Linked DNA regions of Homo sapiens. The protein of the gene in region 2 interacts with the protein of the main gene of each other region in a biochemical or structural test. Each region holds a gene or a part of one and is shown on either strand. Other genes may lie near its edges.

The links.
Region 1: of the proteins of HERPUD1 (region 2) and AMFR, one has a biochemical effect on the other in vitro, tested with the Homo sapiens proteins (6 studies listed by BioGRID and IntAct, with this or other methods).

What each region holds. Positions count from the first base shown.
Region 1 is NC_000016.10:56,424,215-56,427,814, reverse strand, and holds the start of AMFR (E3 ubiquitin-protein ligase AMFR), read left to right. Parts: upstream 1-2,269; 5' UTR 2,270-2,487; coding exon 2,488-2,742; intron 2,743-2,825; exon of another isoform or gene 2,826-2,904; intron 2,905-3,080; exon of another isoform or gene 3,081-3,600. UniProt on the Homo sapiens protein: E3 ubiquitin-protein ligase that mediates the polyubiquitination of lysine and cysteine residues on target proteins, such as CD3D, CYP3A4, CFTR, INSIG1, SOAT2/ACAT2 and APOB for proteasomal degradation.
Region 2 is NC_000016.10:56,930,272-56,933,871, forward strand, and holds the start of HERPUD1 (homocysteine-responsive endoplasmic reticulum-resident ubiquitin-like domain member 1 protein), read left to right. Parts: upstream 1-1,870; 5' UTR 1,871-1,973; coding exon 1,974-2,120; exon of another isoform or gene 2,121-3,023; coding exon of another isoform or gene 3,024-3,044; intron 3,045-3,600. UniProt on the Homo sapiens protein: Component of the endoplasmic reticulum quality control (ERQC) system also called ER-associated degradation (ERAD) involved in ubiquitin-dependent degradation of misfolded endoplasmic reticulum proteins.

The DNA.
Region 1 (3,600 bases), 510 kb from region 2:
TGGGTCCTGCCTCCTTCCCAGTCCTCTCATGGAGTAAGATGCAGTTACCAAGAACTAGAAGTATTGGTTAAGAAGGCTTGTTTGGTTATTGCCAAAATGTCCTTCCTTGAGAACAACGGTGTGCAAAGTACCTTCTTGGAGTGTGTCTTGGAGTGGGAAAGGAAAAAGTAATGGTAGAAAAATTACTAATTCTAGTAAAAGATCCAAACACAAACGATTTACGTTCTTTTGGGTTAACTTCCCCCATTCATGTGAAGTTTCAGAAGGTTCAAGCTTCTAAAAGTTTAATAAGGGCAGATCTGTTAACAGCAGCCTGTTTCTAAGGGTGATGGGACAAATTTGGTTTGTGACAGTTTAGAACTACTGTGGCTAGGATTGAATAAAGATTGCCAGTCAGTGGTTTAAAAGTTATGGTGGCTCAGATCTTGACCTGTAAAGTAGAACACTTCCCTGGAAAATTACAATAGTTTTTCAAAATAAAGCTTTCCTTTATTTTACTGATAAAGTTTAAAGTTTAGCATTTTAATTGCATGGCTGTGGGAAGAGAACCAAAGTGAATTCAAGTCTAGTATTCATATAGACCTTGTATTAAAAAAATGCACGTGTGCAAAGGTAAGGCCTCTCCCTGTCCCGGTAAAGCCAAACGTTCATCAAAGACCCTTTAACAAGATGTTTCTAAAATTTCCAAAGTGGAATTGTAAGCTTGAGAGATCTTTTGTTTTCTAGTTAATAGACTTTTAGAATATTAGGCATGAAAAAGACCTTGAAAGATAATTTGGTCCTTTTCTTTAGAAAGTTTGGAAAATCCTACAAATATTTACAGAGCACCTACTCTGGGCTGAGAACTCTTACAGGCCCTGGGGATGCAAAAGGAATAAAACTCCCAAGGTAACATTTTTTTCCTTTGGTAACAGCTTATTGAGATACAATTCGCATATTGAGATAGAACTATTTAAAGTGTACAATGATTTTTCAATTCAGAGTTGGGCAATCATCACCTCAATTTTACATTTTCATTACTTTGAAAACAAACCTATCCCAGCCAGTGACTCACGCCTGTAATCCCTGCACTTTGTGAAGGCAAGGTGGGAGGATCACTTGAGCTCAGGAGCCACAGACTGGTCTGGACAACATAGCAAGACGCTGTCTCTACCAAAAATTAAAAATTAGCCAGGTGTGGTGGCATACGCCTGTAATCCCAGCTACTGGAGAGACTGAAGCAGGAAGATTTCTTGAGTCCAGGAGATGGAGGATGCAGTGAGCATGCCACTGTACTCTAGCCTGGGCCACAGACCCTGTCTCTTAAAAGAAACCTGCACCCTTTATCACCCCCTACTCCCCTCTTCCTCCCATCCCTAAGCAATCATTAATCAACTTTCTGTGTCTGTATATGTACTTGCCTATTGTGGACATTTCATATCAATGGAATCACACAACACGTGGACCTTTGTGGCTGTCTTCTTTGACTTAGCACGTGTTTAAGGTTCGTTCCTATTGTAGCATGTATCAGTAGTTCATTTTTATGGCCGAATAGTACATTTTATGGATGTATCACATTTATCCACTCATCGCTTGACGGACATTAGCGTTGTTCCCATCTTTTGATTGTTAGAATGTAATCAACATTTGTGTACAAGTTTTGTGTGGAGGTATGTTTCCACTTTTCTTAGAGGAGTGGAATTACTGGGTCAAATGGTCACTCTTGTTTGACTTTAAGGAAAGGACAGGTTATTTTCCAAGACAGCTGCACCATTTGACATTCTCACTTCTGGGGTATGAGGGAACACATTTTTATTTCCCGCTAAATCAGGTTCATTTTTTAGTTTCTGCTGGAGGCTACTAGCAAACAGCAGAAACTTGAAAGACTGTTAATATTCTTTCTTCTGGGGTTTCGGGCACCAGGGAAGCTGCGCGGCCCCTAGGAGTGCTGGGGGTAACCTCTTCAGAGGGTTAATGGGGTGGGGGGGGGGCAAGTGGCCGACGGCCTGGTGGCCAGGGTGCCCCGCGCCCTGAGGCCCTGCCCGCCTGCCAGCGCCTGCGAGCCCGAGTGACCCCTGCGCCGCGGCCGGAGCAGGTGCCCTCTGTGTCTGCGGGCCCAGCCAAGCCGTGGTGCGGACGGCGGATGATGCTGGGTGCCCGCCCCCCGGCCTGAGGCCCGGGGCTACGCCCGCTAGGCGGCGGCGCGACCGCTGGGGGCGGGGGACGAAGGCCGCGCCCCTGCGCCCGTCCCGCCAGCGTCCCGCTGGGGGCGGCGGCCTGTCCCGAGCCCGCCCAGGCTCTTCCGCGCCGGCAGGGGCAGCAGCGGGAGCAGCGCGGGGCGGAGCGGCGCCAGCAGCCAGGAGCGGCCCGGCCCGGCCCGGCGCGGCGGCGGCGGCGGCAGCGGCAGCGGCAGCGACGCCAGAGCCCGTGGGCGCCGTTCGCGAGGCCGCCGCAGAGGCCCGGCCGCAGCGCAGGGAAGCCTGGGGGCCAGAGGTCGCCGCTGCCGCCATGCCGCTGCTCTTCCTCGAGCGCTTCCCCTGGCCCAGCCTCCGCACCTACACGGGCCTCAGCGGCCTGGCCCTGCTGGGCACCATCATCAGCGCCTACCGCGCGCTCAGCCAGCCCGAGGCCGGCCCCGGCGAGCCGGACCAGCTAACGGCCTCGCTGCAGCCTGAGCCGCCGGCGCCCGCCCGGCCGAGCGCCGGGGGACCCCGGGCCCGCGATGTGGCCCAGTACCTGCTCTCAGACAGCCTCTTCGTGTGGGTGAGCGAGGCGGCCGGGCCCGCGGGGCAGGGGCGGGGTCCGCTGCGTCACCCTTTATCCGCGGGGGCGTGGTGGGCCTAGGGGCCCCTCCGCCAGGGACCCCCGAGGGCGAGCGCCTGGGGGGCGCGGCCTTGCTCGCGGGAGCGCTGCTGAGGGAGAGTGGTGAGGCGCGGGGAGGGGGAGGGGGCCGCGGGCGGGAGGAACATCGCGTGGGGTTGCGAGGAGGAGGCCCCGAGGGGCAGGCCAGCGTTGAGGGCTCCGGGAAGGGGGTCGGGGAGGCGGCGGGTGATGGTCTGCGCTGGGGCGCGGACGGGGCCTGGGGCAGGGGAAGGGGTTAAGGGGCAGTGGGGAGGAACGGGCTGGGTTTTCTGAGGGACCCTCGGGAGAAACTAGAAGATCTCAGAGGGCAGGTTCAAGGGGAGGTCGGGATCTGGGAGTGCGTTATCCCGAGGGTTGGACGAAGTAGAGTGAAGTTGAAAGCTTTTCCCACTTGGTCAGGCATGGGATTGTTAGCGGATTTTCTTCCGACGAAGAGGAGAGGGCAGAGGGGAGAATTCAGACGTTGAGTATGGGGGAATTTTCGGCACTCAGGTGTCTTTGGACATTCCGGTTGGAGAGAGGCCGTCTCCCACAACTTTTTTGCCGCTTAGTATTCGATTGTCCCCTTTGGGAGCTGTGTAATGAAACAAACACCAAACTGTGCTTCCTTTTCTGCTGCCTTTACCTGATGTTCATGACAGTTTTCCTTTGATGTCTGAACGCAGCAAAACATTCACAGTGTCAAGAGGCAGCCCATCATTTTAACTGAATGTTTCTTATTTGAGGATCTATTCTAACACAGTTTCCAGGTTGTCTGCC
Region 2 (3,600 bases):
CGGAGTCTCGCTCTGTTGCCCAGGCTGGAGTGCGATGGCACAATCTCGGCTCACTGCAACCTCCACCTCCCGGGTTCAAGCAACTTTCCTGCCTCAGCCTCCTGAGTAGCTGGGATTACAGGCACGTGCCACCATGCCCGGCTAATTTTTGTATTTTTTAGGAGAGACGGGGTTTCACCATGTTGGTCATGCTGGTCTGGAACTCCTGACCTTGTGATCCACCTGCCTCGGCCTCCCAGAATGTTGGGATTACAGGCGTGAGCCACCTCGCCCAGCCTCAAACATACTTTTAAGGCCACCAGATGCAGCTGTACAACTGAAGTACATACACTTGCCATTGTAAAGCCTGCCACCAGATGCAGCTTGTCACTTGCCACTCACTGATAGTGTTTTGATATGAGTCTGCAAGCAATTGATTTATGATGGCCTCTGTGCAGTGAAACCTCTCTGCTAATGTTAATCCGTATTTGCAGCCACTCTCAGCACTAGCATCAGCAACTCAGCTCCACCTCCCATCATCAGGCATTCGATTCTCGTAAGGAGCACAGCCTAGTTCCCTTGCGTGCACAGTTCACAATAGGGTTCGGCTCCTGTGAGGATCTAATGCCCCCTGATCTAACAGGAGGCTGAGCTCAGGTGGTAATGCAGCGATAGGGAGCAGCTGTAAATACAGATGAAGCTTCGCTGGTGGCTCACCTCCTGCGGTGCCGCCTGGTTCCTAATAGGCCAGGGACTCATAGTGGTCCGTGGCCCAGGGGGGTTGGGGACCCCGTCTTAAGCCATCCAGTTTGTGGCACTTTGTTATGGCAGCTGCAGCAGATGAATATACCCACCAACCAGACCAGGCTCCTCCTGTTACCTTCCTGACCTTGACAAGCTCCTGACAACACCTGAAAAAACAGATGTCCCAAGGGGGTTGGAACAAGGAGGGAGCCGGGGCAATGTCAGTTTTGTTTTTCAAGCCTTTTTTTTTTTTTTTTTTTTTCCTACAGAGGAGGAGGAGGGAACGCCTACAATAAAGAGGCCTTTATGGTCCCACTTCAGGAATCGGAGAACCCCGCCCTCCTCGTCTCAGCCCCAATTTAACGGGTGCATGTGTGAGTATCTTATAAAGTGACGCGTTTTGAGGGGGACTCCAGTGTGAGCAGGACTGTGGCTGACTTGTCAATCATCATTAGGGTGATGTCCCAAACGTTCAAGTCTGAGGCCCAGGGAAATTGGCAACAGCTGCCTGGATGCCTCCATCCTCCCAGCCCAAGGAAAATCTGGCCTTGCTCCTTCGTTGTCTTTCTTAGGAGCACGTGGAGTTCTCCTAGGTGGGCTTGCACTCGGGGTCGCCCAGCCGTTCTTTGAGGGTTCGAGTGGGTAGGCTTCCCCTGTAGGACGGGCTTCCCCGTAGGTTTCCACGTGGGGCCACAGAGGCAGGAAAAGGGGAAGTGGGCACTGACACCTGGGGTGAAAAAGGGTGGGGGTGCGGCTTTGTGAGGAAAGAATTTGCAGAGACTGCTAAACTGGGGTCTGCTAGGATACCCCACTCCCCACCCCCTGCCTCGGGCGCCCTCAGCCACCCGAGCTGGGGGCCTCGCAGGTCTCAGACCAAGCTCCCCGCGCGGCCTGCAGCGCACCCAAACATGGCCACCGAACCCGGGTTCCCGGGGCACAGCCGCGCCTCTGGGTGACGCAGACGCGGCGGGTTGCATCAGCCCGTGCCCACGTGCTCGGTCCGCCCTCTGCCACCCGGATCCGGACGCCGATTGGGCCACGTTGGGAGAGTGCCTCCGCCTCAGCCAATGGGCGGCAGCCACAGAGCGTTCTGTCCGCAGAGCCGGGCGCGGGGCTTCTATAAAAGGCGCCCGAAGCGGGGGCGCGCGCCCCAGAGACGTGAACTGTCGTTGCAGAGATTGCGGGCGGCTGAGACGCCGCCTGCCTGGCACCTAGGAGCGCAGCGGAGCCCCGACACCGCCGCCGCCGCCATGGAGTCCGAGACCGAACCCGAGCCCGTCACGCTCCTGGTGAAGAGCCCCAACCAGCGCCACCGCGACTTGGAGCTGAGTGGCGACCGCGGCTGGAGTGTGGGCCACCTCAAGGCCCACCTGAGCCGCGTCTACCCCGAGCGTCCGGTGAGAGCGGCCCCGACTTCCCGCCCCTAGGCTGTGGCCCCCCGCCCTCTGCTGGGGATGCCACGTCCGGCTGCCCTGTCCTGTGGCCTCCTCCCGCTGACGGCTGCGATCGCTCGGCCGGTCACCTCCCCCAGGGCTGTGGTCTCCCCTTCCCTGCCCCGCCGACGCGGGCGCCCCTCTGTTGCCCAGTAGCCGTCAGTAATCAGCAGCCTGACCTTGGGCGAGTCATTTCACCCTCCAAGCCTGTTTCTCCCCCAGCGGCCAGGCAACTCGGTGTTCCTAATTGGGCTTGCATCCAATGGCTAGAAGTAAGAAAACATCCGTGCTGCAAAATGAGGTTTCTGAACGCAGCCTCTCTGCAGGGAGAGGAGCGGGCAGGTGCCACCCGGGGCCGTGGCTTGAGAAACCTGGGGACCGCCCAGACACTGTGGACGGAAGGCCCCACACCCAGAAGCAGGACGTGGCTCTTCTCCTCCCTGGCCACCTTCCGCCGTGCCCCTCCCTGTCGCACTGGACCGAGCAGCCATTGCCGAGTCCCGGGGTGGAGCCCCGTGCACTTTCTGACCAAGAGCGACTGAGAAGGGAAGCAGGCAGGAGTCGCCTTCAGTCTGGTTTTAGGACGGCAGCCTCTCCATTATTAGCAAGACTTCCTTGCTTTGTTTTGGTTGACACATCTGTCAACATCACCCTTAGCACCGCCTGCCCTGGCCACCACGTGATGAGGCTGTAAGCTGGCCCTTCCTGTATTTACTTTCTGCTCTGATATTATGTAAGTGTCAGCAGTGTTCTTCACTGCCCACGAGCATAATTCTTCATCACACAGGAGAGGGCATCCGGGCAGGAAAAGATAGTGAAGTCGTGAGTTCCAGCTTGTGGTAGCGCCTGTGTCTGTTTTTGTTTCATATGGTCAAGAATGTTTTAGAAGTGAGTTTTCCTTCTGAGTTGTTATTTTGAAATTTGCATATTTATTTAGTAAGCTTGCATTCCATGTCCTCTAGAATTCACCCTGGCACATTTTTCAGTTTCACCATAGCTGCTTCCAAGAAACTGGGTGGCTGTGTTGCCATGAGAATGACTATTGGGTACACAAATTGGTGAAGCAGGTGTAGCCTATGGTTGCATCATATGGCAAAAGGCAGGATTTTGGCGGAGGATTTTTAAGGTCTTCCTTTGATGAGGAATGCCGCTCCCATCTGTTCAGTCTGAAGACCTAACATTGTAAACAAATACCTCTCAGGTATACAAATTTGTGTCTAAAAATTATTATGGCTGAAACATACTTATCATTTGTTTTCTGTAGTAGAAAATGGCATAATATGAGAAGGCCTACTTTGTAATAGTTGTTTGCTTTACTTAATATTTTTCAAATCAGCCATCTGTGTGAAGACTCAATATCAAGTTAGGCCTTTAAAAGGGGGAAAATAATTCAAAACCACTGGCAGCTGTGGTTTTCCGGCCTTTTCTATTGGTTGAACTCTGT